Linked DNA regions of Homo sapiens: region 2 is linked to region 1. The links come from fine-mapping of genetic effects on gene expression. A gene starts in region 1. The other region holds a variant in brackets. All regions are shown on one strand. Distances are from middle to middle. Region 1 holds the start of LINC02930 (long intergenic non-protein coding RNA 2930). Region 2 overlaps LINC02930 (long intergenic non-protein coding RNA 2930).

Evidence for each region.
Region 2: its variant is fine-mapped to the expression of LINC02930 in whole blood (TOPMed, PIP 0.95).

The regions. Positions count from the first base shown.
Region 1 is chr10:120,603,670-120,614,713 of GRCh38, reverse strand. It overlaps LINC02930 (long intergenic non-protein coding RNA 2930), which reads right to left and starts at 6,132. Exons shown (of 5, transcript XR_002957103.2): 1 at 5,941-6,132.
Region 2 is chr10:120,802,915-120,813,958 of GRCh38, reverse strand. It overlaps LINC02930 (long intergenic non-protein coding RNA 2930), which reads right to left. Exons shown (of 5, transcript XR_002957103.2): 3 at 1,849-1,928. All of the region lies in intron 1 of WDR11-DT (WDR11 divergent transcript), which reads left to right. Among named protein-coding and RNA genes, the nearest start is that of WDR11-DT, 43 kb to the left of the region's middle. The variant C/T (reference allele first, on the strand shown) is at 5,769.

The sequences.
Region 1 (11,044 bases):
CCCTCAGTCACAAGGGCCCTGAGAAACAAAGTGGGTATTTCACAGAGGCAGTGTGGATGGCTGATGATGGATTAGGGGCATACAGGTGTCTCCATTGTTCTGGGGAAAAAGAAGAGTCCAGCAAGACCAAACTATTCCTTTAGCTACAAAAGTTGAGAATTTTGTTGTTGTTGTTGTTGGTGGTGGTGGTGGTGTGTGACATGTGTGTGAATGTGTGCATGTGCATTTTAACCAACTTCTTAGGATGGAAAATCTGGAGTCAGAAATTAGAATCACGCAGAGCCTTCATAGCCAGTTAACCTGCGTCTAGTTTTCCTTCAAGAGTTCAGGTTCAGACATTCTCCTGGTATCTCTATGATGTCTTTAGTCAAGAGCAAACATGTAGATACAGCATTTGGGTGGACCCTATGAGGCTTATTAAATCAAAATTCTGAAAGTCAGAATTGCTAAAATCAAATTAACTGCTACAGATGTTATCTTCATAAGGTTTCTTTCTGGGTGGAATACAAAATATTAAGCAAAATTCTGGGATCTTTTCTGTTTCTTCTGTGGTTTCAAACTCAGGACAGTTATATTTTTGAACCACATTAGCTGAGTATCAGACCTTGTGAAAATACAGGCATTATCCCCATGAACAGGGAAAAGCTTTGGCAAGCTTTCTTAATGTGAAGATGCTATAACGTTCTTTAATCAGCCTTGAGAATTGCAAATACAACCTAGAGATGGAACCAGGACTTACCTTCCTCAGAAAGATCAAAGGAATCCAGCATTTGTAGCTGAAACTGCAAACAACTAATAGTCATCATACAATTCCATTTGACTGTAATTAATATTTATTACTTTTACTGCTTCATGACTTTTCCTCAGGCTTGTTTTAATCCTTTCAGCAAACTTCCCTTTATTCTCCTCCATCAAACAATTTTCAAGTTCCTGCCCCAGCTTACATAGAGAGAATGACACTTCAGTGGCCCACCCACTTAAGAATAAGCCTCAAGAACAAAATATATGCTGGCAAGAAGCCATACATCCAAGTAAGCATCCTGGCACACATGATATAACAAGCCTAGAGGGGAGATAGGCTGGAGCTGAGCTTGAAGGCTAAAAAAGCTGATGGAGAAGTCAAGTAGGATCTTCCTGAATGGGGGACTGGGGAAGGAGTTAGCTAAGAAAAGCAATGGAGCTAGGGTTGAGGGTGTTCACTAGCCATAGACAATTGCTTGCTTGGCATAATTTGACAAGTCTCATCTAACACCAGTCATTCCTATTGTCCTTCCCTGCTGCATAAAGATATCATTATTCATTTGAATCATGTCTAGGCTAAGGATCCAGGATCTTGGGAGGAAATTACACAGTCCATATTCATTTACTAGATCAAGATTAGCAACTGTCGTCATCCCTCAAAAAAAGGAGGAGGGAGAGGGTCAGGAAAAATAACTAATGGGTACTAGGCTTAATACCTGGGTGATGAAACAACCTGTCCAACAAACCTCCACGACACAAGTTTACCTATATAACAAACCTGCACGTGTAGCCTGAACTTAAAATAAAAGTTTAAAATAAAAAAGAATAAAAGACTGCTTCAAAACAACAAATAAACAAAAGTAAGTCTGGGTCAAGGATGAGTCAGTATTGATAATGGGAAAGGGAAGAAGTGTTTAAGCCCAGCTTAGAGGGTTATCGGTGTGAGAGTCCTAGACAGGGAAAGCCAGGCCATGCCCAGACTACACGTCTCTATTATTCTTCCCCATGGTGGACTTATTTATATGAATGTCTTGCCACTGAGTTACAATCTCCTCTCCAACCCCAACCTCCAGGTCCTGTTTCTATTCAACTATGTAATGTTTGATGAATTGTTGGCAGCAGAAACAGTGCAACATGTGTATGCAAAGACTAGGAAATGAAGAACTTCCATTTCTGGCCATGACAGAGTAGCTGGAAGCTGATATATTTTCCCATCATAAATTACTAGAAAACTAAATAGAATATATAAAACTGCTTTCAGGCATTGGACAACAGGTAGCATTAAGAACATAGTCCCTGAGAGAAGATAAATAACAAGGTGAGCCCCACAACCACTCCAGATTTCTGCCTGGAGGCACCTTCCAGACCTCAGTGCCCAAAGCGATGCCAAGGAGAACACAGCAGTCTTTGTGAATTGACAAGACAGGGATCATAGTTTAGAGAGACTGAGGCAGCTTTGTGAGGTAGTATACTGGAGAGGAAAAAAACGTACAAAGAAAAAGCTCCAGAAATCTGCATGGGTGTCTCTATGGGTCTCTGACTGAAAACTGAGCTGTGTATTTTCAGAGTAAAACTCCATAGAACTGGTCAAAGAACTGCTACCTGTAAGCTGTGAGCTGAGCAATTCCCAGAGCTCACGCAGGGATGCAAGATAGTTTAGCTCCAACCAGCCAGAGTAGAGAGACCTGGTTAAAATCCCAGAGCATTTAGTAGAGACTTCATGAGGGCCATGCCATTGTACTAGCCCTACAGACTACTTTAGGACCACTCTAATAAAGCTTAAAAACAAACCTCAAAAACAAAACAAAACAAAAACAATTTGATGCTCAAATAACAACTTTCTGCCAGAGCAAAGTCTAACTCTCTTTAAAGGATGACAACAAAATCCAAATACTCAACAAAGTAAAATTTACAGTGTTCAGCACCCAGATAAAAATTACTGTACAGGCCAAGAAACAAGAAATGATAGTCTATACAACCAGGAGAAAAATTAGGCTATAGAAACAGAGACTCAAAACCAAAATCCTTAGGTATATTTTTGTCTCTTTTTCAAATTCTTCTTCTCAATTAGCAATTGATTTTACCCCTGTCAAACTCTATAAATATGAAGTCACTCATGTTTATTTCTCACTTAATGTGCTTAACAGCTAATTAACAAGATGTTTACAGAAAGTCCTTAGAGACCAGTAGACGGTCTCTGCCTTGGAAAAACCAAAGGCTGGGCTTGCTTGGATGAGAGGAGAAAAGCTTCTCACCCATGACACATGAAAATAACTAATACTTGATGAATTCCTCCCAGGGACTTAAGGTGCCCATCTCCTTTCCAGCCCGTATGAACTTTTTGAAAGTGTATCTCATCCTCACTTCCCCAACCCACACCTATAGTGATTTCAAAGTAAAAAAGTAAGAAAACCAAATAGCAAATATTGACAAGCTCCCAGAAGAAAGTAGAGAAATGCAAAATTGAGACTCTTACTTGGATCATGCCTTGGTTTTCTCTAGTATGCCTGGGGAGTTATGCCAAATTATTTCCTTGGCTTTAATAAGCACATTAAAAAGTGACCCAACATTCTATAACTATGATTTTATAAATAGCTACCTAGGACAACCTGAAGAAAGTGGCCGTCACCATGTCCATAGAATATATTGCCCCAAGAACAGGTGGAAGGAGAAAATGTTTTCCATCAGAACCTTTAAACAGTAGCTTAGATTTTGCTTAGCTTCCTAATAAATGTGATTAATGCAAATGTAAGCCTTTATTTTAAATGTAATCATCTCTGCCCCTGCACACAAGGCTCTTTACATGGAGAGTTAGGTGCCAAAGCAACTCTAACCATAAGAAGGAAGCTTGTTCATTCTCAGAATATGCTGAAGCTCACTGAATTGCAGAACTATACAATAGCTCCAAATGTTATTATGCCCATATGTCCAGGAGTTTAAGTGGCTTCTGCAGTGCCTCTTACTCATGTCATTGTGTGGGTGGCAGTGTTCTGGCCAACAATGACCATGGGATTGAGCATCTTGTATAATCATCTTACTAGGTTCTGAGAGTTATCCAGAACTGACAGCACAGGGCTGCTTACAGATGCTAATTAGAAGGGCAGCTCAAGTTATTTCCTAGATAATGAGGGGAAGTGTTTGTGATTTAACTTCTACCTACTATTGTTCCCTGTGGAGTTTTTGGAGGGAAGTAATTGCCTCATTGCTGCAAAGTGTTAACTTGGTTTGTGCTTTGTTCTTGCTGCCATAGCTTTTTCCTCCTCTGAACTCTGCATGAGTCTAAGGGTTATTTGTTCCCAGTGGCTTCAGATTCTTCCAGGTATTCTATTAAGATGACTGCTTAATTTCCAAGAGTCGAATGTGAAACATAGAATCTCAGTAGTTAGTCTAACATTTTCCTCAATGTTTAAATTCCCTTGTCAACGTACCCTATATGTGTTTGGTCTCTGCTGGAAAGTCTCCAGACAAGAAACTCACTACTCACTGGCAAGCCCATTTCTCTATTAAGAAAGTTCTTAAAACTGAACCAAAGTCTCTTTCCTACTCATTGGTTCTAATCCTTCCTCTGCCATGCAAGAAATAAGCCTACTCAGTTTCGTATATCATAGCTCTTGATGTGTTATACTCTGCTCAAACCCAGCAGCCACTCCCAACGACCTGTCAAATCCCGAGTGTCCTTTTCTCTAGCCAACGATGCTGCAATAGAATTCTGACTCTCTGGGTTTCTTTTTCTTTTTTGCTCTCATTATTTCTCTGATTAAGAGAAATTTTCCTCCATTCTTCCTTCCTTCCTCTTATTTTCTTCTTTCCTTCCTCCCGCCTCCCTTTCCCTATCTCTCTCTTCCTGTTACAAAACATATACAATTTAAAAACATTGTTCAGAAACACCATCACATGCCTCCACAAGTCTCTGCAGTCTCTTTGGTAGTACTAGACCCAGATCTGGTCCTCATAAGCATTGCTTTCTTGCTCCATAAAAAGAAAATCTCAGGTCCTATTTGTCTGTGAAATCATGGTAAAAAGTTATCTTTGGGGTCTTATTTTTCCCAGAATGCCAATACTGGTCTACTGAACCTAGACCTCATCTTTCCATTTCGTGACACAACTGCTTTCTTCTGAGCACAAAATGGAGCTGAGAGTCAAGACAATTACGCGATTACATTCAGATGACAAACTTTTTGGTCTTAGCATTTGATAGAAGAAAAAATATTTTATTAACATAAAACTTGCTGATGGGTATCCAAAGCCTCCACTTCATCACACACAGTGCAGACATGGCCTTTGAGTGCACACCAAGCTTAGTAACCTCCTTGCTCACTAAACTGTGGTGCTTCTCTTTTCACAAACATAAGCTGGGATCTTAGCAATTCCCCATCTGTCCACAGGTGAATATGTTATTTGAGAGAGGAGGCAGCTGCTACAACTCTTCATGGAAAACCAACATTGTAATTGCAAAAATAATTTGCAAATGATATTTCATGTGTTGCATTATTGCTTGTGATACTGATGGTTTATTAACCTACTTTCTTCTTATTTCTATGGGAAAACACAAAGACCTCATTTTTCCCTCAGATCACGTCAAAGTTAGGATGGATTTAAATGTACATTTATTTATTTATATACAGATATTCAGATAAGTTGGACAGCCACATCCCTACATTTTCTAAAATGACATAATGGGCATCAATAACAGGGTAAAATTGTGGCTCTGAGCCATCAGACAGAAACTGACGTTGCAGCCCAGCTGTGTGTACACAAACACTCAGGCTGATGAAGGAAGGCCACGGAATTCAAACCAGCACATCTTGCTGCTTTGCATTCAGCCTGCATCACCCGGGACAGAAAAACAGTGTGCTAATGAGAGAAAAAGTTGAACAACATAGAGTTCCTCTTTACAGGTTCCTAACATTATCTGGACAAACTGAGTGTTAGAGCTGGCCCGAGGGCTGATGGTGAGCAAGGGAACCGTCCAGGAGCAAATGAAACTGTCACGAAGGAAATGCCAGGCTCAGATAGACCCCACTCAGGAGGAAGGAAACCAGTGAGAAGGGAGGAAGGGGACCCCATCTCTGTTTCAGGACTTGGACTCATGGTTACTGTCCCTTGCTAAGAGCAATGTCCATTCTGTTCAGTCACGTGGGATGCAAACTCTAAACAAACCTTGATGAAGAGGAAAAGAGAATGCATTGGCTCAAGTACCTGAAAAGCCCAGGGCAGGGCTGGTTTCGGGCTTGGCTGGATTCAGAACCCAAGTGATTTCAGGAGTTCACTCCCTCCATGTTTTGCCTCTGATTCCTCTGCCTGGGATCCACCCAGAAGCACCTTCTGCAGTAAGATTGCTGGAGCTGTCCAGGTTCCCCATTCCATCCTCACAGCAACTCTAGCCAAAAGAGAGTTTCTCTTTTTCAGTGGTTTCCATTGAAACCATAGAACTGAGTCTCAGTAGCTCTGATTGGTCAGCTGTGGGCCACATGTTCATCCCTTAACCAATCACTATGGTCAGAGAGATATGGTATTCTCATTGGCCAGGCAGGGTCACATGCTCATCTCTGAAGCTGAGGTGGGGTCAGCCCCACATTGATCACTTGAACAGGGGAAGACTGAATCGTTATCAAAGAAGAGTTGAATTCTATCAAGGGGCCAGGAGTGTAGGACAGCAAACAAAAACAGGTAACCACCTCAGGTTAAAAAACTGCCTGAAGGGAGGGGTCACGGTTTACAGATGGCAAGGAAATCCTAGATACAATGCTAAATAGTGGCTTCATTAGTCATCATCCCACTTGTATCCATGCAGGCTAACAGATTCTGTCATGGATTAGGGCTCTGCTCTTACCAGCCATCATTCTGACCATGCCCACTGTTGAGGACTATGGCTCCCAAGTTGGTCTTGCCATGAGATTTTAAAAGCATGAAATTATCAAGGACAATTAGAATGAATTTGTCTTCATCATCAGCCAGTCAGAAGTTTTGAGAACTAATAATGCTTAAAATCTATAGTGATCGCCTTTAATTATTCTTTCAGCCTGTAAGTTTTCACGTTTTCTTGGCTGACTTTTAATAATGAAACCTGCTGACTTTTAATAGTGAAACCACTGTTCTGACTCATTATTTATATCAGGTGTGTTTCCAATGTGAACTTATAAAGTGGTAGACATTTCTTGGTTATTTTATGTTTTGTTAAAAGTATCAGGGATCATTATGTCTAAGTTTGTTAATTACGTTGATACTTCTCCCAAGGGTTCCATTACTCTCAATGTCAGACAACTGGGAGAAGTTGTTCTGAAAGTCATAGACAGCAGACAAGAGCCTTTTAACTGATGTATTCATTTCTTTAAGAGGCCATGAACTGGCAGTGTCTTCTCTCTGGAATCTCTGTTAGTCATTCCTACTGACTCATAGCAATTCGCTCTCTGAGCAGAAGTTCCCATGAGAGAAGACCCCACTAGATGGTGATGTCAACTGATGGAAGAATTTTGGATGATGTTTACAAAGCAAGGAGGTCTTGTGAGTCTCACCAGCAGGCCAGTGTCAAGTGGAAGAGGCCAGGCCTGGCTGTTGGCCATAGGCTTGGCTGGAATTGGCAAAGGTGCCATTTTAACTTCCACACCCTGCTCATGGCTACCCACTCTACTCCTAACCAAGCTATTTATACCACAAATGCCTGACTACAGATATGGGGACATAAGTGAATGAGAGAGAAAAAGAACGAGAATGGGAAGCATTTTCCCACTTGTGCCATTACAACTGGTCAGGTCCCCAAGCATTCACTTGTTGTCTTCTCTGAGTCTGACAGCCACTCTATGAGTTAGATAGGGCAGGTATTGCTGCCATTTTACAGATGAGGCTTGTCCAGGATCACACAGCCATCTTGGATCCACTACCCAGTAGAGCCTGTGGAATCCATCTCAAAGGGATTAAAAGGATTGAAAATCTGCCCTGCAGATACTGATCAGTCAAGACTTTCTGCATGTTCAGGACAGCTACTGTTCTTTCCTCTCACTATTTCAAATAGCTCAGTCTCAAACTCTAGGCTGATTTGAAGCCCTTGCCTCTTCTCTCTCCCAAAGAGTCAAAAGATATAGTAGCCAGGGAGCCCTTGAACATGCTCCTCCCAACAGCAGCCCGGAGTTCATGCAAGTGAAAGGCTTTGTGAAGACATCAGCCACCCTCTAGCAGATTATTTTATAAATCAGATAAGCCAATTTTTTTGTTTCAATGTCTTCACTTTTTTCTTCTCTTGTTTATTTGTCCAGTTAGTCACTCTCTCGGAGGTAAATTGCATTCCCTCCTGGGGCCACTAGTGTCCCAAAGGAAGAAGAGTTTGTGAACTGTGCTAATAATGCTACGGTATACCTAACCCAAACCCTGCCCTACGTGCTCTTTGCCACATGACTCAGATCATTGGTTGGTCTTCTGTGAGCCCTAGATCTTTCTTTTTAAAGTGTTAAGCCACTGTATTTTCAGTCCAATTTCTAATCATGGCTTTTACCCATTGTTAGTCAAAAGTAGAGAAGAGTATAAGGCCTTATGAGAAACCCGTGTCCATGGTGTTTAGAGAAGTATAGAACTTCAGAAGTCATCCAGTTCAAAGCTTTACGGTGGGTAATCACTAACAATTTCCTTCTCCAAGATTAGTCAGTAAGTAATAGTGAAAATAAGAGCCAGCTTCTCAGGTACTTGCCAGGGGCCAAGCACTTTTTCTAGATATTTTAAATGAATTGATTCATTTCATTTTCATAGTAACTTCCTCATTATCACCATGTTACAGATGAACAAACTGAAGGTAAGAGAATCTAGGTAACTCACCCAAAGCCACATAGTACAGCTGGGATGTAAATCTGTGGGTATGAACCTGTGTTTGAGCTATGATTTGCATAATTCTGGAGCTATTACTCTCACCCACTCAGCTATACTTTTTCAACCAAAAGAAGAGATTAAGCTTATGTATTTCTGTGTGTGTGTGTGTGTGTGTGTGTGTGTGTGTGTGTGTGTGTATAAAAGCATGTATAATAGGCCCTCCCTGCCTCCTTGCCCAGCTGAGGGCCTGGGGGAGGGAGAGACCCAGAGCACAGGACAGCAAAGCTTCTCATTCTTTTTGATTCTCTTTCAGCAGCAAAGATAGAACCTGAATTAATATCTCAATAAATGATCCTTCCCTCCATGGACCAGCCAACGAGCACTCAGCGCTATTCACTCATCTTTTAGCTGGTGTAGGGGACAAGGAGATATGAGTGTGAAGATAATTGTAAAAATTTCAAAGGTTTTTGTTTCTTACTGAAATGACAAAGCTTGAGAGGTTCCTCCCTCCAGTCTCAGGATAATGAGACAGCATTTGCACACTTAAAGAGATTTTTCTCTCTTCTGAATGCTATTGTGTTCCACAAAAAAGCTCTGCTCTCAGTGTAGGGGAGGCTGATGAAGTTTTACTGTAGCCAAACAGGCAGCCTGATAATATGACAGGACGACAGAGAGAGACAACAGTGACAGACAAACAGAGAGGCAGAGAGGTGCTGGTAGAAGAATGAGCAGAGAAGTCAGAAACACACTGTGATGTATAGAGACAGAGAAAAGACACCCCAAGGACATAGAGACCAAGGCAAAACCACAAAAGAGAACATAGCCAGAGTTAGAATGCACCAGTGCCCAGCTGTACATTAAATATGCTATCATTCCCCAAACTTAACTCATTTCAAATTAAAGAATAGCTATACTACTTAGGCCCCTTGGGGAAAAAAAAATTAATTGAGTGGGCTATCATATTGCAAACCTGCTTCCAGGTAGGTATCTGGCCACTCAAAGCAGTAATATATTTACTATCTGTTGCCCACCCTCCATCCCCAAACACCCCTCTGCATGCATTTGGTCTCTCAGAACCTGTCTGGTGTTGGTTTAAAAGCTGCCATGGCCTCTTTTTTTCTGGCCATTCTGGCAAATGTCTCTTAGTTTGCAAGTGTGTTTTAATCAATGGGCCTACAGCTCCAAGTGTGCAACTGACAGCTTCTTGAAAGATCTTTGCAAATCACATTGGAGTAAATAATCATATGAGAATGGATTGGGGTGTCTGCTTTATAAATGAGTATGATAGCCAATACTTAGGTTAAAAAAAATAAAGAAGGTTTTTGTTTGGTTTGTTGGTTTGCTTTGTTTACTGGAAAAATGTCATTCAAGGTATCTGGGTTTGGTTGATTTGTTGTTGTTGTTTTTGCTTCTCTCCCCACAGCCCAAATGAGACAGCTTTGAACTTCCTGAAACACTTTTAGAAGAACAAGTCTTCTGTATCCTATAAGAAGGAAAAGACAGTAGAATTTGTTTCCAGATTTTATCTAACATAAGAAGGCCCTCAGGGAACTGTAGCATAATTGGAATGATGCGGCCCCAGGTATCAAGAGTTCTCTCTTTTAGCCATCAACTTGGGTAAGGAGCCTAAACTTGGCAAGCCAACCTTATAGGGATAATGGCAACAACAAAATAACATGATGTACCCATTCATTAATGCGGAAATATTAATATATTGAAGGCCCCCTCTGGGGACAGGGCTATGAATGAGACAGAGGGGATCCCTGCTCCCAAGAAGCCTGCACTCTAGAGAGGGCAGAAAGGAAATATATATATATGTATTAGTACAGTAGGGCTGCCGTAACAAAGTGCCAAAAACTAGGTGGCTTAAACAACAGAAAAGTACTGTCTTGCCATTCTGGAGCTGGAAGTTCAAGATCAAGGTGTTAGCAGGGTTGGTTCCTTCTGAGGGCTGTGAGGAGAATGAATCTGTCCCAGGTCTCACTCCTTGGCTTGTAGATGGCTGTCTTCACATCGCCATGCTTCTGTGCAGATCTGTGTCTAAACCTCCTCTTCTGAATAATGATGCCAGTCATGTTGGGTGAGGGCCTGCCCTAATGACCTCATGTTCACTTGATTACCTCTGTAAAGGCCTTGTCTCCAAATAAGGTCGCATTCTGAGGTACTGAAGGTTAGGACTTCAACATACAAATTTTTGGGACAGGGACAATTTGACCCATAAGAATATATGAATAATATAACTGTGACATGAAGGAACTTAGGAAAATACAATAAAAACTAATTGTGTGTGTTGGGGGAGGGGGGAGCCGTCACAGTGACGGCAGGGCTCAGGAGGTGGCATTGAGGCTGAGGCCTGAAGGAGGAGAAAGAACTAGGTGAGGGAGAGCCATCCAGGCAGAGGCACAGCAGCATGGTCAGAAACCGCTCAGCTGGTTTTGAAACCGTTCCCCAAAAAACTTTATAAAACTGATTAAAGGAAAAAAGAAAAAATTCAACTAGACTAGCA
Region 2 (11,044 bases), 200 kb before region 1:
CCTAGTGTTGGTGAGGACGTAGAGGAATGGGCACGCTGTACCATCACTGGAGATGCTAATTGGTCCAAGTGGCCACTTCAGAGAGTGATGTAGCATCTCTCAGTACATTCTCCTTTAGAGAAATCCACATTTGCACAAAAGGGACATATCCACGGGTGTCAGTGCAGCTCTGTTATTTCATAGCATGTAAGTGGAAACTACCCATCAGTAGAAAAATAGATAAATAATCTGAGGTCTCTGAATAAAGTGGAGGCTGGAAGTAGATCAGTATGGTACCAACGTAGGTACATTTCCAAAACATAAAAGCAAACAGCAAAAGAAATGAACAGTATTTCACCATTTATCTAAATTTAAAAAACACACAATAGTGTATATACTATTGTTGTAGTATCAGGGCCAAGGGAAAATTCTCCTTTACCTTCTAAAGGTTTACTGAAAATCACTGACAAGAGGGAGATTAATAAGAGAATGGACATACATATTTATTTAGTGTATTATTTAGTGTATACACGGGAGCCTTCAGAACAGAGACTCAAAGCTACAGGGGAAATTGTCCATTTTTATGCTTAAGTTCAACAACCATGTAGAAATATGATTGGACAGAAAAGGTATGATCTAATGCTAATAGCTGACTGAGTGAGGAAATCCAGCAAGGCCCGTCTGTCTAGATTCTTCTCAGCCTCTCAGAGCATGCACTCCTTCCTTCTGGGCGTGGGGCAGAACCCTCTCTCGAATGGGGCTCTTAAGACCTACAGTCAAATAACGTAGGTCAGATAATTTCTTCATGGTCCGTTTTTACACAGACAGGTGGAGGAAAAGTTAAAGTAACATTTTTAAGTTTTATGGCTGGCTTTGGGAAGAGGGGTTCTGGTTTCTATGACCTGCCTTGGGGAAGAGAGATTCTAATTTCTCTGCCTAGCCTCAGGGGAGAATGGAACTGAGAGACAGGAGAGCAGGAGAAGGTCGGAGAAAAACTTTTGCCTCTGAAGCTGCTTCTGAGGTCTGCATTTCAGGGTATTGTTTTCTGAGTCCTAGCAGTAGAAATGGTAAAAATACATTCATCACAATAATTCCCATTAGCCTTAATAGTGGATACTGTTGAGGAAAGGTAAGAAGGAAGGAAATGAGAAATGAGTTGGGGATTTAGCTGTATTTGCAACGTTTTATTTCCAAAAGTTGTGAGCCAAACATATATGACAAATGTTAGCTGTTTGCTTTTGGTGAAAGACATCATTTTTTGTACTTCCTCTGTATGTTGTAAACATTTGCATAATTAATCAAATCTTTTTTTAAAGATTATGTAAATGGCAAAAAGTTTTTACCTGTAGAATAATCTGCCTCCCCCAAAGTTATCCGTGCCCTAATCCCCAAAACCTATCAATATATATTTCTTTTCATGGCAAAAGAGACTTTGCAGATGTCATTGAATTAAGGATCTTGAGATGAGGAGATTTTCCTAGATTATCTGAGTAGGCTCAACATAATTACGAGGAATTACAGGAATACAGGCAGCCTCTCGGAGCTGGAAAAGGCAAGGAAACAGAGTCTCCTCCAGAGCCTCCAGGACAAAATGAAGCCAGATGAGACCCTGATTTTAGCCTCGTTTGACCCATATCAAACTCTGATCTCCAGAACTGTAAGATAATAAATTCGGGTTGTTTTAAGCTATCAAAGTTATGGTAATTTGTTAGAGCAGTCAGAGGAAATTAATATATTAGCTCATCCTAATTTCTGTTTTTAAAATTAAAATGAGGTCTGTAATCTGCCAGGTCTCTTAGTTCATTTGTGCTGCTACAACAGCATTCCATGGACTGAGTAATTTATAAACAATAGAAATGTATTTCTCACCGTTCTGGAAGCTAGGAAGTCCAAGATGACGGCATCCGCATTCAGCATCTGGCGAGGGCCTTTGCCGCATCCTTACATGTCTGGAGGCAGAAAGGCAAAAAGGACCTAGATGGTTCCCTGGGGCCCTTTTATAAGGTACTGGTCTCATTCATGAGGGATGGCTTCATTGCCTTCTAAAGGCCCCACTTCTTAATACTCACACATTGGGTCTTAGATTCCAACATATGAATTTTAGGGTGACATACATTCGAACCATAATACCAGGGAAATGTTCTAAGGTTTATTCACTCAACAAGTACTTATTGAACATGAGTGCTGCTATGCCCCAGACACTCTGCTGTGGACTTAAGATAGAAAAGTGAGATAAATTTGACAAAAGTGCCTGCTCTTTGGGGAAAGAGTGGGTGGAGACAAGAAATAAGAAAAAAATAAAGTTAGAATATAAATAGAATATTAGTACAGTGGTGAATGCTACAGAGACAAGAAACATAACAGGTATGGGGCTTGGGAGTATGGAGGGTGTGCTTGGGTGAGAAGTGATTACAATTTTCAGAACGGTGCCCCAGTCAGGAAGGCGACACATGAGCCAACTCTTGGAAGAGATAAAGGGAATCTGGTCATATGGATGTGCAAAGGAAGAGTGTTCTAGCAGAGGGAACAGTCACTGCAAAGCCCTAGGCTCAAGTATGCTCAGTGCATTTGTGGGACACAAAGAGGCCAATGGGGCTGGCACAGAGAGAGCAAAGGGGAGGGTTACAAGAGCTACCCCAGAGAGGAAGGAGAGAGGTGGGTTGTCAAGATGTTCCCGAAGTTAGTGGCTGCGTTTGATGTAAATATAATCCTAAAAAGCCACCATGAGTCTAAGACTGCTTTTCCATGCTAGGAATATTTATACAGTGGCAGCCATGAATGCTACGGCCTGTCACCCTGTTACTCTGCATAGCAGTGTGTGGGCAGCCCAGGCATCGGCTTGGTGTGAGGGAATCTATTTCCGATAGGGGACCCAGGGCGTTTGGGGCTGGGGCAGTGGCTATCAGCTTGCCCAGAATTATCCAGTGGCCTGAGGCAATGCTCCAGGAGTGCTTAAAGCAACTGGCCTCCTTGGCTCCCACTAAGTAATGCTGAGGTCTGTCAGTGGAATTCATTTTTCTAGCATTCGCACCAAAAGTGTCCAGGCAGCCTACAGTAAGCAACACATCACTGGTGGGGTGCCCCAGGCAGATTGGAGAAGCTGTGGCCACATAGAGTGGGGGAAAGAGCAGGGGACCTCCCTGAGCCTCAGTTTTCTCCTCTGTAAGTGGAGTGTGCTGACTCCCCAGGATTATGCAAGAGTTGGAAGAGCAAGGATGTTGGGGAAATGCTGGGCAAGCAAGCAGCAAGTGCTCAAAGGATGCTGAAGCCAGGGCTTCCCTCCCTTCTTTCCTTCTTCCTCTCCTGCTTAGCATGGTGTTGGGTCCAGGAACAAAATAATCTAGAATACAAAAAGTGTGATAGGTGAGCTGTTGGGAAGGGCTGCAGGATGGGCTGCTGGCAGCCTTCCAGCTGGGGAAGTCAGGGAGGCTTCCTGGAGGGGTGGCGGCTGAGCTGGCTAGGATCCAAATGTGAGTATTCCTCCTGGGGAAAAGCAGCAGCAAAAGCAGCCTTGGAAAGAGGAAAGCAGGGGATCCAGGGCCCTAATTCAGGGAGGGAGTTGTGCATAATAGCAGGTGTGACAGCCAACAGAGGGAATGGGAGGGAAACTGGCAGGAGGAGGGTCTGAACTTACACTCTTTACAGAGCCTCAGCTGGCTTTTGAGTTTGCACGGAGTGTAGGAAGTGAGCAAATCAATGTATGCTTTGAGAAAATTAATTTGGTATAAGTTCCTCCTGAATTTCATTGTGTTTGATATGAAAATTTAGCCTTGGGCCAGCACTGCATGGAATTTTTAAAGTGCATCACTTCACAGATTAAAAGGGGGCCCTCTGCTCCTGATACCCTTATATAGAGAGTTCTACTTAATTTTACAGAAGGGTACAGTTTAACCTGCTCTTGTTCCATGCAACTCGGAAAAATAAATTATTTAACCAAGGATATGCTTTAGGGCATTATGTTTGCCTTTTTTATTTTAAAAATTGTTTGTCCTTCTATTTTCACGCCTTTAGTTATTCAATACAGCCTTCCTTTTACTAAAATCATGTGCCTGTCCTCTTGAAACTGAAAAACTTGTCTAATGTCATAAAACCATAAGGGAAGAGTGTTCTCTGCCCCAGATTTTGGCCTATATGCCTCTTTTTTCTGTTTAGTCTTAATTGAAAGATTGTTTTATACATTGTTCTTTTTCCCCATATCTATTTTTGTTTTTTCTAGTCTCATTTCAGAACTCACTCAACCATTTCTGCTTCTCAAAGAGATGCTATTCTGTTGATAATAGAGAAATCTCCAGGTGCACTGCCATTATCTAATTCTGGGATATTATTAAGAGCATTTAATTCAAACAATCATGTTTTATTAGAAAAGAATGACTAAGTCTTTGATTGAATTGACTAGGGCATAACTATTTTAGGGTTTGTTATTAGAATTTAGAATTATCAGGCAATTTCTATGGCTGTTTGAGGTGTCTGTTTTTACTTGTAATAACGATTCTTCTAATAAAACCTTCTGTAGGATAGTGTTTTCTTCTTATTAAGGGGCTGATATGCTTTATTTAATATAATCATCTTAATGCCTCAGGAAGTTTTCTATTACTTTCATTATAAGATTAGGGAAACCCAGGCATGGGACTTATATGACTTACCCAAGCAGGTGACACCTTCACTTGAACCTTCGTTTGCATTCAGGTTTTTTTTTGTTTTTGTTTTTTTTTTTTTGAGACGGAGTCTCATTCTGTCACCCAGGCTGGAGTGCAGTAGTGCGATCTCAGCTCACTGCAGCCAGCCTCCGTCTCCTGGGTTCCAGCAATTCTCCTGCCTCAGCCTCCTGGGTAGCTGGGATTACAGGTATGCGCCACCACGCTGGGTAATTTTTGTATTTTTAGAAGAGACAAGGTTTCACCATATTAGCCAGGCTGGTCTTGAACTCCTGATCTCAGGTGATCTGCTTGCCTTGTCCTCCCAAAGTGCTAGGATCACAGGTGTGAGCCACCGTGCTGAGCCTGTCTTCAGGTTTATAAGCCAATTCTCCTTCTGTAGTTATGTTAATGCTAAGCCCATGTGTTACATGTTATCCCTGAATTTGTGAATCCCAGAAAAACTGGCTGTTGTGGAACAATTTCTACAGAAAAAGAGGGCTAGAAATGTTTTCATTGGATACTGATAACTCTGCTTCAGTGTGACCTTTAACTAAATTATAACCATTATCATTCATTTTAATAGAGTTGATGTGATGGTGGGGACCAATGTCAATCTATTATTATGAATCATTTTCTGTATCGTGAAATCAATACCTTTTCTCTCATTACTATTTGTATTATTTTGGTATTGTTATAGATAAGTGTTCCTCAGCCTCCACTCTATTAACATTTTGAGCCAGATAATTCTTTCTGTGGGGAGCTGTCCTGAGCACTGTAAATGTTTAGGAGAAGCTGTGGCCTCTACTCAGTAGATGCCAGTAGCACCTCTCACCCCAGTTGTGACAACCAAAAAGTCTCTAGGTGTTGCCAAATATCCCCTGGGGGACAAAGTCGTCCTTTGTTGCAAATAACTGCTGTTGATGATATAGGAATTAAAATATTTTATTCTCTTAAGCTATTGAATTCTCTAACCTAAACATGCATTATTAATTACTTTGAAGCACACTTACCCATTGATCCTCCTATCATCAATAAGAATCCGTTGAGAACATCTTCCAGTACAGAGAGGAACCAACATCTGGTTAATTCAAACACAACCCCTGGGATCAGGTAATTAAACATGTTCTTAACTAGCTGTCTTACCAAAATCAA[C/T]ACAAACTGCAGTTTCATCCATCTTAACTACAGAGCATGTGTTTTTCTAGTAATGTTCCTTGTCAAGCTTTTAGAGCTGAGAATTGAGAAAACAAGCCAGAATCGGCATCTTTGGTTGCATAATAAATGTGTTTGACACACATCAACCTGAGTACTCTGCAAATTTGATAATCATTTCACCAATTTTTGTGTTAGATCATTTCAAATGAAGCAACCATTTATGATGGGGTAGGAGGAAAGGAGGTAAGGGTCTAGGGAAAGAGACATACACGAGAAAGGGAGGACAAAGAATTCTGGAGGGTGCCTACATGAGGCATGTATTTCTGGATTCCAGGTTGATAGACAAGAATCAATAGGCTGTGGTTGTTAAATATACAGTCCGTAGACTAGACCATCCAGTTCACATCTCAGTCCTTCTACTTATTAACGATGAACTTGAGCAAGACATTTACATTTTCCCTGCCTCACATCTTATGGTGTTGCTATCAGGATTAGTGAGTTGAAAGAAATAAGGCACATAGAAGAGGAGCCAGCAGATAGTTGCTTAATGTTACTTGTTATCCTTAAAACAATATAGATAGCTTTGCATATAGAACTACCCGTCGACACAGAGCTGGAGAGAGGCAGTGTGTGGTCTGGTGGCTTGGGTTTGGAGCTGAGCCCTGCCATTCATTGCTGGGTGACGTCTGGACCTTGGTTTTGTCGGCATAAGTTGGTTGTAAAGATTAAATGAGAAAAGGCAGGTAAAGCCCCTGGCGAGGGGTCTGGTACAAAAAGCAATAAATGCCAGTTTCTTTCCCCAGGCTTGAAGACTGATGCCTAATTCTGGCTGGTTATGAGACCCAGGAAGATTACTTAAAATCTCAGATCCTCAGTTTTCACATCCATGGACTTACCAGATCGATCTTTCCATCTGTCCATTCAATAAATTTCATTCAATCATCACTAAGTTGGCCCAGACTAAGTCCTGGAAATCTTTAAATCCCTCATTTAAAAAATATGGAGAATTTCAAATGTCTGAAAAACAGATTATGCATAACCAACCCCCATTTACCCACCACTCAATTCGAGTAAGCCACCTTTCAGCTTTAGACTTCAGAGGGCCCTTGAGTTAGGATGGCATGGAGGGTGGAATAAAAATATCAGGGGGTTTCTGTTAACTCCAAGTTTAATACGAGTTACCAGTATAATGTGGCTATAGCCCAAACTAATAACTCCCCTTAGCCTACGTTAAAACAAGCATCACATTTAGAATAAAGGCGATGATGCTCTTCTCTTACAAGCTGCTCAGGCCTGTCCTGGAGTTTTCCGTTCTGTTTCCTCATCACATTCAAGAGGCCCCTACATCAATAAGAAAAGGTCAAGAGGAGAAACAGCAGGATTGTTACACAGCTGGAAGCCATGAGTACTGATTATCATTGTCACTTATTAAGCTCCTGCTGTTTGCAAGCTGTATGGCAAGTGCTTTCTATAAATTATTGAATTCTCATAAACACAAAAAAGTAGATGTTATTGCTTTCACACCATTTTATGGATGAGACAGAGTATAAGATGAAACTGAGTAAAAGAAAATTTGAAATTCATCTCGTTCACCCAGTAGGTCACTGAGCAGAGACTTGAACCCCAGCAGTCTGGTTCCAGGACCCACATCCTGAGCCCTACACCCCAGCCCCAGGAGGCTTAACCTAGAGAAGAGAAATTGAGCTCCACAATCTTTCTTCAAATTCCTTGGAAGGCTGTCTTGTGGAAGCCCTCTTTGATGGACTTTGTGTGGCTCCAAAGGGCAGATGCAGGTTCTAGGTGTAGCAGTAACAGGCAGTGGGTTTCATTTCAACACAAAGTGCTTTTTATTCCTTAGCGCTATTCAGCACACATGTGGCTTGGGAGGCAGTGAGTTCCCTGTCACTGGAGATGTGCAAACAGTGGGGTAGTGTGGGAAGCAGGAAGAGAACAATCAGGCAGATCTGATTTGCAACCTGATTCTGTCACTTACTAGCTTGGCGGCTTGGACATAATACTACTTCTCTGAACCTCAGTTTCCTATCTGTAAAATGAAAATACTTAACTTAAAAGGTTGTTTTGAGAATTAGAGATGCTATTTACAGAGGTCCTGGCTCATGATAAATACCTAATAAATGGCAGCCTTGTTTCAAATTTCTGCATAAACTCATGCATCTGCTGGGGGGTTGGACTGCTTCCCCTCTAGGTTCTGTGCATCGCTCCATCCTGACTGACACCCAGGAGTCTTGGCTTTTTAGGATTGACTCCAAAATGGCTTTATCCATCACTGCAAAGTGAACATTTTGCAATCCTCATTAGATGCATATTCTTATTAACTTTTCTCTGAAATCATCCTTTACTGTGTCATGAACTGAGAAAAAGAAGGAGCAAAAAGAATAATGGTTAAGGTCTCCATCTGCTGCATCTTGGTTTACAGCAAAAAAGGCCGTGCATTACCCAACCTTGGGAGTATCTATTTTTAAGCAAGCTAAATTTGCTTACATTATGCAGGATTGCATGGAAATGTGGACTTGAATGTCTGAAGTTTGAATGTTGAAGTATCTGGGGGCTGTGCTACGCTGGCTTGGCTTCCCCAGGCACTTGATGTTGGGTGGAGGAGTGTGCAGAACTGCAGGAGAGGAGCAAGCATCATCTGTAACAGTACAGTGTTGGCCAACCCAGCTTTTACTTCGTCATTCATCAAAACGTTCGCTGTTTCAAACTATTTGAGTCCCAAAGAGAATACGTCATCAGCATTGCCCTCTAGCATGCTACAGCAGGTCATAGGCCAGTGGGTTTCCTTATTTTTAAGGCTGTAGAGCCCTTTTCTTCTGTAGAGCTCTTTTCTTTCATGGATTGTCCCAAGGGACACTGGTAGGTAAGACAGGTGAAAGGGATACCCTTTGGGTTGAAGTTGGGGTGGGGAACTGGAGGTTGCAGTCTGTTGGCCCCTTGACCACCCTCAACAGCTCCTCCTAGTGGTCTGGAGGCATCACCTTGAACCTCTAGGGCCCCTGGAATCCAGATTGACAACCAGTTGGACACAGCCATTTCAAATCCCTTTCTTGTTTTAAGAGGCTTCTTTGACTGCCACCTTTTACACACAGCAGGTTTGCAAGCCCTTCTAGCACCCACAGATGGTAAGAAATTGGAGGGACTTCCCTGCTGACTTGGTCGTCAGAGTCAGCTGAGTATAACACAGACCCTATTTTGAACCCAGTCTTTTAATGTTGTTTAATGAAACAGAATAATTTTACTTTGTTTTGCTTTCTAAGCTTTTTACTGAATTGCCATTATTTTCAAAATGGATGTTAGTGGAGGAGGTGGTAATACAATAGCTACCAGCATTTATTGAAGGAAAATAAGGAAATAATTGTTCACTTGACATTGCCATGATTTTAACGGTTTGGGGAAAGGCCACCAGAAACAGAGTTTTGAGTGTGCTAATGATTCTGCCATGCCTGGGAAGCTGGAGGAAGCTCTTATGGACACTTGAATGATCCTGCTTAGACCCCAAAGCATCTAGACCAGGGCCTGGCATACAGTGGGTGCTCAATATGCATTGACTGGATGAGAATGAACCCAGGGTACCAGACACATTGTAGCTTCATGGCGCTGTCCCGCACATTGCAAAAATGTAACTCCAGTTTGTGCCTCTTAGGATTTCACTGATCAGTTATTTCCCCCTCTCTTCTGGCAGAAAAGGAAGAGGCAATATAAGATAGGATACATTTACATTTTTAATTTTCTTTTAGTAAAACAGCTTCTTTTAAGCAAAGACAGTTTGGTGGTAGCACAAGTAGATGCTGCAACCAATTAGTGAGATGACATGAAGTAAGATAGAAAAAATGTAGATTTAATTGAAGAAAGTTGCAATATAAAATCAAGCTGCCAGCCTTTAAAATTGTAATTAATTTTAGGGGAAGAAAAAGCTCATCGAATCGCTCTCACTGCTTTCTCACTCAAGTGTTTGCGCAACCGACTGTCTCATTTAACTCTTCCTTCCTGCAAGCTGCTCTTCCAGACAGCTTCTGATCCATGAGAAATACTCCTCTCTAGGAGACGGTTTTATGACTCAGTGGATTCACAGAAGCTCTTTCCTCTGAAGATGTTTTTAGTGACCTCCAAAGGATGCTACATCATAAATTCTGACAGAAGACATGAAATGTGACAGTGGACATGATCAGGCTGGTAACTAGCATCCCAGGTCTATCTGGGGTCATAAACAATGGCGCTGTTGGAAATGATGAAAAAGGAAACTGTCGGCTAATGAGATCAAACATCCAGTCAAGGCAGGCATTAACCCACCTGCTTATGAGGTAGTTGGCACTTTCTAGATTTCCACGAAACAATGAAGGAAGCAGAGAGAGGGAGAAAGGATTCAAGCAGAGTCTAAAAATTCCTCCCATAGTAGCCAAATCTCTTCTAACTCAGCCTCACCAGTGCTTGATATCCCACCATTATAAATCCATATTGTAGTTGATTTCTCCAGGTATCTTTTTGTATTTTTATTTTTTGAGACAGAGTCTTGCTCTGTCGCCCAGGCTAGAGTGCAGTGGCACGATCTTGGCTCACTGCAACCTCTACCTCCCAGGTTCAAACGATTCTCCTGCCTCAGCCTCCCAAGTAGCTGGGATTACAGATGCCTGCCACTGTGCCTGGCTAATTTTTGTATTTTTAGTAGAGACCGCGTTTCACCATGTTGGCCAGGCTGGTCTTGAACTCCTGACCTCATGATCCACCCACCTTGGCCTCACAAAGTGCTGGGATTACAGGCATGAACCACCATGCTCGGCTCCAGATATCTTTTTAGAAATACTCTGATCTGAAAAGGCACCTCTGTATGCTAGTGTGAGTTAATTGATCAGATACATTTCCTCATTGGCAATAGAGATAGAGGCAAAGGGGAGCTTTGAGTAACAGGACCTCGATCAAACCTCTGTGTGCCCACCTTGTGATTGTCTTCCAGTGTGTGCTGAGTTGTATGACAAATAATGAGACAATGGGAAAGCTACTCTAGAAGGCTCTGTTCTCTTTGTATGGGCAAATAAAGCAGAAACCTAACTCACAGGCTCCTTTCTCATGATCACTATTTGCACAACGCTCTGCATAGTGAGGGATGTTATGTCCTTTAATCCTGACTACAAAAGGCAAAGAATCTGTATTGTAAGGAAACAAGGGAGCTGGAGCATGTGCAAAGAATGTTCACTTCCGGCAATAAGTGGGTCTTAAGATTGTGTTTAATTCTGCTTGAAAGTATTGTGGGCATATAATTT